Linked DNA regions of Homo sapiens. The protein of the gene in region 2 binds, or shares a complex with, the protein of the main gene of each other region. Each region holds a gene or a part of one and is shown on either strand. Other genes may lie near its edges.

Region 1 (3,649 bases), on a different chromosome or scaffold from region 2:
AGCCCAGGAGGCAGAGGTTGCAGTGAGCCAAGATCTTGCCACTGCACTCCAGCCTGGGCAGCAGAACCAGATCCTGTCTCTGGAAAAAAGATAGCAGCAGTCACCCCTAGGTGTTGGGATTGGAGGTGATCTTATTTTCTTTTTATTTTTCTGACTTTTCTAAATCTCTGATAAACTTGCAATTAAAGAAAAAATAACAGAAAATGTGTTATATGCAGTATTATTGGAGGTACTATTAATATTTGCAAGTGTTCAGACCTAATTGCGGGGAAATGATGGCAGGATTCTACAGGTATATTTTAGAGCAGTTGTGAGATGCATGTAACTATTTGTAAAGGTTCATACAGATGATTACTAGATCAGCATAAATAATATGTCTGTGGACGTTTTCTGCAGGACTTTGATAACTTGTTACCTGAGTGAAATTTAATTCCTGGGCGATTCTGGGAGATGGTAAAGTGAGGCGGAAGGAGCCAGCGGCCAATTCCTGAACTATTCTGGGAAACGGTGGCGTGAGGCGGAAGGAGCCGGTGGCCAAGGTCCCAGTAGTGTCACATGATCTTCCCGCGTGTTTGCTGCACTGGGAAAAAATGTTGAAGAATTAGTTTGAAAATTGCCCCGTTGGCCAGGAGTGATGGCTCACTCCTATAATCCCAGCACTTTGGGAGGCTGAGGTGGGAGGATAGCTTGAGCCTGGGAGGTCGAGGCTGCAGTGAGCTGATTGCACCATTGCACTCTAGGATGACAGAGTGAGACCCTGTCTCAAAAAAACAAAACAAAAATTGCCCTGATCCACACAAATTCTTGGTTTTGTTTTTATAAATGTGCTTCTATAAAATGAAAGCCAAAGTGTTCTGTTATTTCAGTTTTTTTTTTTAATCTCCTTTTAGGTTAAAAATTTTGCAGTTATTTATCTTGTGGATATTACAGAAGTGCCTGACTTCAACAAAATGTATGAGTTATACGATCCATGTACTGTCATGTTTTTCTTCAGGTACGTTATCTTAAAGTTGTTACTGAAATTGAATATTGTCAGTTTGGAAGCTTAATGTAATCAAGATCTCTTTAGATTATTTTATTTTGAAGGAAGTTGGTTGTACAGTCATGTCCCAAAATCGTTTGTATCACCAGGCAATCAGTGTGAATCTTTGAAATAATTTTCAAAGTAACAATTCTAGTTTTAGCATTTACTCAGTAACAAATTACCCTTTTGAAATAACTTTGCGGGGAAACCTAGGTGAAGTGTAATTCAATGAAAGATGTTGTTACTGACATTTTAGATACCTGGAACTATAATCTGTTCATCAAAAATGTTGTAAAATCACAAATTTAGGCCGGGCACAGTGGCTCAAAGCGCCTGTAATCCCAGCACTTTGGGAGGCCGAGGTGGGTGGATCACAAGGTCAGGAGTTCGAGACCAGCTGGGCTAAGATGGTGAAACCGAGTCTCTACTAAAAATACAAAATTAGCCGGGCGTGGTGGTGCATACCTGTAATCCCAGCTACTGGGAGGCTGAGGCAGGAGAATCACTTGTACCCAGGAGGTGGAGGTTGCAGTTAGCCGAGATCATGCCATTGCACTCCAGCCTAGGCAACAAGAGCAAAACTCCGTCTCAAAAAAAAAAATCAAAAACCTAATTTATTAAATATGTTATCATCAACTTCGGTGTCCTTTTTTATATCCAAGAGGAACACCTGAACTACTTTGCTTATAAATACAAGATTATTTTATCAGCTCAAAAATTTCATTATGGAAATTTAATGGGGAAAGAAATCACCATCTGATGCTGTTTTTACTTGTTTAGTTACCATAGAGGTTGGTGAATTAGCTACATGAGCATTAGACCATTCTCCAAAAGTGGAGCCTCCTACTCGGTAAGGAAGGTCAGGTGGGTTGTATAGGGTATGCGTTAGTTTTGTATTCTTTGTAACAAATTAGCACGCATTGAGCAGCTTAAATCACCCCGCTTTTCTGAGCTCACAGTTCTGTAAGTCAGACATCCAGGCAGGGCCCGCTGGATTCCTGCTCAGGGTCTCACAAGGTCTGAACCATGGGCTGGGTGCTTATCTGGAGTGTTTGAGGGGCTTGTTTGGGTTGTGGGCCGAGTCTGGCTCTTCGTGGTGGTGGGTCTGAGATCTGCTTCCTTGCTGCTGTTACCTGAGGCCACTCTGCTGCCAGAGACCCAGTTACCCTCAAAGCCAGCACTGGCATGCCGGCACATTGAGAACTTTTCACACAGGTTCTCTGACCTGAAAAGTTCTGCCTGAGAAAATGCTCTGGTTTTAGAGGACTGTGATAAGATTAGACTTGCCCAAATAATCCAGGATAGTGACCTTGTTTTATTTATTTATTGAGATGGAGTCTCACTCTCACCCAGGGTGGAGTGCAGTGGCACCATCACAGCAAGCTTGAACTCCTGGCTTCGAGCCATCCTCCCGCCTCAGGCTGCCAAAGCGTGAGGCACTGCCGTGGTTCTGGGCGTCGGGATACGCTCCCCTGGACACGCCCTTGGCTTCCTAGGTGCCTCCTGTTAGGTTGAGAAGATCTGTGAGGTGCACCCTGCATTTCTTGTGAACTTTTCATCTTTCCTAGGTTTCAGCAAAGGTTGCGTGGCTGACCCTCATCCTTTTCTCTACTGTGTGTTCAGCAGCCATTTCTGAATTTCAGCCCCTTTGGCCATCCGGAGAGGCTAAAGAATTTATTCCTTTTGTTAACAGTTCTTACACTAATTTGCCTCTTTCCTCTCTTGAAGGCAGCACCTCCGAGACTTTGCTTGGAAGTTTCCGCAGCTAAATATCCCGAGTGTGTTGCTTTTGAGCTCTGACTTCCTATAACTGCGGACCCCGTGTCCCTGTTCCTCGGCCACTCTGTAACGGGGGTCCCCTTTTCTCCGTTTCCCAGTAACACACTCCTCACTTCCTTCCAAGCCCACACCAGGTGTTCCTGAAGTCCATATTTCTGTTAACAGCCTGTTCGAGGCAATAGAGGCCTTTTCTATTTTGCCCCTCAGAATTCTTCAGGTGAGAACAGGGAGGGCCGTCTTAGGTCTCTGCCCCCCACAGCGTGCAGTGGAGGCCAGCCTGGGGCTGGAGATGCTGTGAGGGGCAAGGAGGCTGCAGGCAACAGCCTTGGGTGGCGGGAGCAGCCTACTTAGTGTAGTTTGATATTTTTAGGACTGATGCTGTACTCAGAAAAGGAGATGAAACTTCCTTCTGCTGTTTCTGTGATTTAGAATTTTAAGACAAACGGTACTTTAGTTAACTTATGCACCAAACATATATCTTGAGCCCCCACCAGGTTTGTGGTCTAGTGGTGGAGCCTAATGTCAGATAAGACAGGATTCCCACTCTCATAGGACGTTGTCTGATAGAAACAGCTGAGTAAATTAGCAGGGGGTTCTGAAGAAGTGAAAGGAGGCAGATGTTTATGAGATATAAATACCGAAGAAGTACACCCAGGTCAGATAGGGCTGCAGGGAGGGTGCTACGGGCAGCCCCCAGTCATTGTAGAAGGAGCTTGGTGCATGCTGCATGTAGGGCCTGCCTGCAGCATGGAGAATGAGAGGGCGGCCAGAGGTGGGCTCCAGACCCTGATCAGATTTGCCTCTCCTGAACCAGAGACTTCACGGGGAATACTTTCTACGGAATAG
Region 2 (3,649 bases):
GGTAGAGAAGAGATTTGGTCAAAGTGGATGTTTCAAGAATATGCGTTGCTGGGCCGGGCACGGTGGCTCAAGCCTGTAATCCCAGCACTTTGAGAGGCCAAGGCGGGCGGATCACGAGGTCAGGAGATTGAGACCATCCTGGCCAACATGGTGAAACCCCGTCTCTACTAAAAATACAAAAAATTTAGCCGGGCGTGGTGGCGGGCACCTGTAGTCCCAGCTACTCGGGAGGCTGAGGCAGGAGAATGGCGTGAACCTGGGAGGCGGAGCTTGCAGTGAGCTGAAATCAGGCCACTGCATTCCAGCCTGGGCAACAGAGCAAGACTCCGTCTCAAAAAAAAAAAAAAAAAAAGAGAATATGCATTGCTGGCCAGGAGCAGTGGCTCACACCTGTAATCCGAGCACTTTGGGAGGCAGAGGCAGAGGCAGGCAGATCACAAAGTCAGGAGATCGAGACCATCCTGGCTAACACGTTGAAACCCTGTCTCTACTAAAAAATACAAAAAAAATTAGCCAGGCGTGGTGGCGGGCGCCTGTAGTCCCAGCTACTCGGGAGGCTAAGGCAGGAGAATGGCGTGAACCCGGGAGGCGGAGCTTGCAGTGAACCGAGATTGAGCCACTGTGCTCCAGCCTGGGCCACACAGCGAGACTCCGGCTAAAAAAAAAAAAAAAAAAAAAGAGTATGCGTTGCCTTTGGAAAAATGATTTTTGATAGCCCTGTTCAAGGTTAGAAATTCAGGAAACAGACCAGCTGGAAGGGAACGAAGCACCTCATACACTCTTGGACCTCCCACAGAATACTTCCCAAGGTATTTTGGGGATAAGTTCAAATGAGATGTTCTCAGCCTTTCATCTAATAAACCAGTAAATATTACCAAGTCCACCCCAAGAATAAGAGGCAACATGGTTCTACAGCCTCTTCATCTTTAAACCTGCTCACCTGCCCCAAACGCTTCTGTCCCGCCCACACGGACGTGTGGATTATCTTGAGGAACAGCTGCCCTGTGCGTGGGTTGAAGATGAAGATGGCTCCGTTGATGGGCTTGGTTGTCAAGTTCCCTTCAAAGGTCTAGAGGAGGACGGCATTCGTTAGCATGGCCTACACAACACATCCCCATCCTGCCTTCTTCCCAGCATGTGTACACACTTAGCCCATTACTCTCCCACAGCCATGTACAGAGTCCCGCACCTATACACTGCTGCTAACACTCACCTTGTGAATAGTCACTCTGTAGACGTTGGTGTCATCCACAAACCAGATAATCTGGTTGGAGAAGAGCTCACCATAGTTCTGAGAAGACAAATAAGGCTCAGTGGGTTCAGATGAATAGAGCTGTAGCCCCTTGCGGATCCGTTCACGTAACACATACAGGGCAGGGTTTGCCTTCATGATCTTGGCCATGGCCTGTTGTATGAGAGGCTTGCTGCCTGGGAACCAGTTTCCATAGGCACTGTGAGGATAAAAGGGTCAAGAAAAGTTAAGACGAGAATGACAGCCCCAGAAACAAGACAAGCTGCCAACTCTACAGAGGAAGAAAGACTGTTCGCCAGGCTGACAACACTCTGCTCATGTGTACATACAGGCTGGAGAAGAGAATCAGTGACCCATAGGAGGAATGGGCCACTTCCTCTCACTTAGGTAAAGTAAAAAAGTATGACTACGTTAAAGTATGGAGCTAATGGAAAATACACGGATTATTTATTTATTTATTATTATTATTATTTTTCTTTGAGATGGAGTCTCACTCTGTCGCCCAGGCTGGAGTGCAGTGGCGCAATCTCGGTTCACTGCAAGCTCCGCCTCCCGGGTTCAAGTAATTCTCCCACCTCAACCTTCTGAGTAGCTGGGACTACAGGCGTGGACCACCACGCCCAGCTAATTTTTTGTATTTTGGTAGAGACAGGGTTTCACCATGTTGCCCAGACTGGTCTCAAACTCCTGAGCTCAGACAATCTGCCCACCGCGGCCTCCCAAAGTGCTGGGATTACAGGTGTGAGCCACTGCGCCTGGCCTGAAAATACATGGTCCTGAGCCTCAACTCACCTGTGCAAGTTATAGGCCAGGTCAATGGCGATGAGTACACCTGTGGGCGAAGGGTAGATACTCATGTTGTCGGTGGTGTAGTCCAGGAACTTGGCCCGGGCGTAGCGCTCAATGTCGTGGGAATCATAGTCCCCCCAGCGCAACTGGATGTCAATCCAGTATTTCTGGGTGGTGGTGCTGTCCATCACATCCCTGAGGATGAAGAGGGTTCAAGCTTCTAAGAAACCATGGGCATAACCAATGTCCCCAGAACCAGAACCACTTAAATCCCAAAACCATCCCACCCACTCCACCAACTTGTTCCAGGTCAGCAGGACCCCAGAGAATCAGCAGATCTGACTAAGGGTGTTGACAGGCTCCAAGCGTAGCACTGGCTCCAAGTTTGAAACAAAGGCAGACAGGACAATTCCTAAAGTTGCAGGGCTAGAAGAACAGGAAAACGAAAGTGTCCTGGCTGCCTAGGGCTGGGTCCTGAGGCACTTACTTGGAGTCAGCCAGCAATGAGGGCCGGGAGACATTCCACTTATAGGAGGCAAAGAGCAGGATATCTGCACAGGAAGAGTTCATCTTATATGACTTTCGGGGATGGATTGTCTCCTTTTGTACTGTCTCAATTTCCAGTGCATCAAGTTCCTGGTCAAACACCTGAAGGAAAACATGGAGAGATTAAGACTTGTTAAGGAAGCCCAATTAAAATCAGAGTTTGTACAATAAGATAATGAGGCAATAGGAGTCTCATCCTCAGAGCTTCCAGGGTGGATTTCCCATATGCAAAAGAGCAAGCTGAGCTGACTCTGTACAGCACGCTCTCCCCGCGATTCCACCTGAGCTGACTCTGTACAGCACCCTCTCCCCGCGATTCCACCTAAGCTGACTCTGTACAGCACCCTCTCCCTGCGATTCCACCTGAGCTGACTCTCTACAGTACCCTCTCCCCACGATTCCACCTGAGCTGACTCTGTACAGTACCCTCTCCCCTCGATTCCACCTGAGCTGACTCTGTACAGTACCCTCTCCCCTCAATTCCACCTGAGCTGACTCTCTACAGTACCCTCTCCCCTCGATTCCAGCCCACCTGACATAAGTCCATAACAATGCTCTCATGGATCTTCTGCCACAAGTGAGCTCGGAAGATCTGGATGAGAGAGATCTTCAGCGTGGGGATCTTGCCGTGCATGAAGATACCCGTCAGGTCTAGCTGCACCTGAAAGCCTACATATACCTGCCAGGAAAACGACAATGTGACATTAGAGATCAAGAGACTCGGGCGCTCACGACATAACCAAGGCAAGAAGCAGCAACTGTCTTTAGCTTCCCCTCTCCAGTGTCAATCACACTCACATTGGCTCGATTAATGGTCGGGGACCACCAGAGGGTGAATCTACGATTGGGAATCTGGTTCAGTCCTGATCGCTGAGCATTAGTTAGCTTCTTCCACTTCATAGATTCCTCAAAGCCACTGGCCTTCTCCCTGGGGAGCAAGAGAAGCAGGTGAGGTGATATCCTGCCATTTCCCAGCACACTGCTAACCTCCTGGAGGTGGCTGTCTGGGAAACACCACAGGAAATCACAGAGGCATACAAGAGATGAGCTCAAAGGGTTGTG

What was found. The genes of interacting proteins can lie anywhere in the genome.
Region 1: PRPF8 (region 2) and TXNL4A share a complex: the UniProt entries of both Homo sapiens proteins name them as parts of the U4/U6-U5 tri-snRNP complex.

Annotation. Positions count from the first base shown.
Region 1 is NC_000018.10:79,974,943-79,978,591, reverse strand, and holds part of TXNL4A (thioredoxin-like protein 4A), read left to right. Parts: intron 1-890; coding exon 891-994; intron 995-1,804; exon of another isoform or gene 1,805-1,874; intron 1,875-3,649. UniProt on the Homo sapiens protein: Plays a role in pre-mRNA splicing as component of the U5 snRNP and U4/U6-U5 tri-snRNP complexes that are involved in spliceosome assembly, and as component of the precatalytic spliceosome (spliceosome B complex).
Region 2 is NC_000017.11:1,657,313-1,660,961, forward strand, and holds part of PRPF8 (pre-mRNA-processing-splicing factor 8), read right to left. Parts: intron 3,516-3,649; coding exon 3,386-3,515; intron 3,267-3,385; coding exon 3,120-3,266; intron 2,690-3,119; coding exon 2,529-2,689; intron 2,237-2,528; coding exon 2,045-2,236; intron 1,452-2,044; coding exon 1,214-1,451; intron 1,070-1,213; coding exon 941-1,069; intron 1-940. UniProt on the Homo sapiens protein: Plays a role in pre-mRNA splicing as core component of precatalytic, catalytic and postcatalytic spliceosomal complexes, both of the predominant U2-type spliceosome and the minor U12-type spliceosome.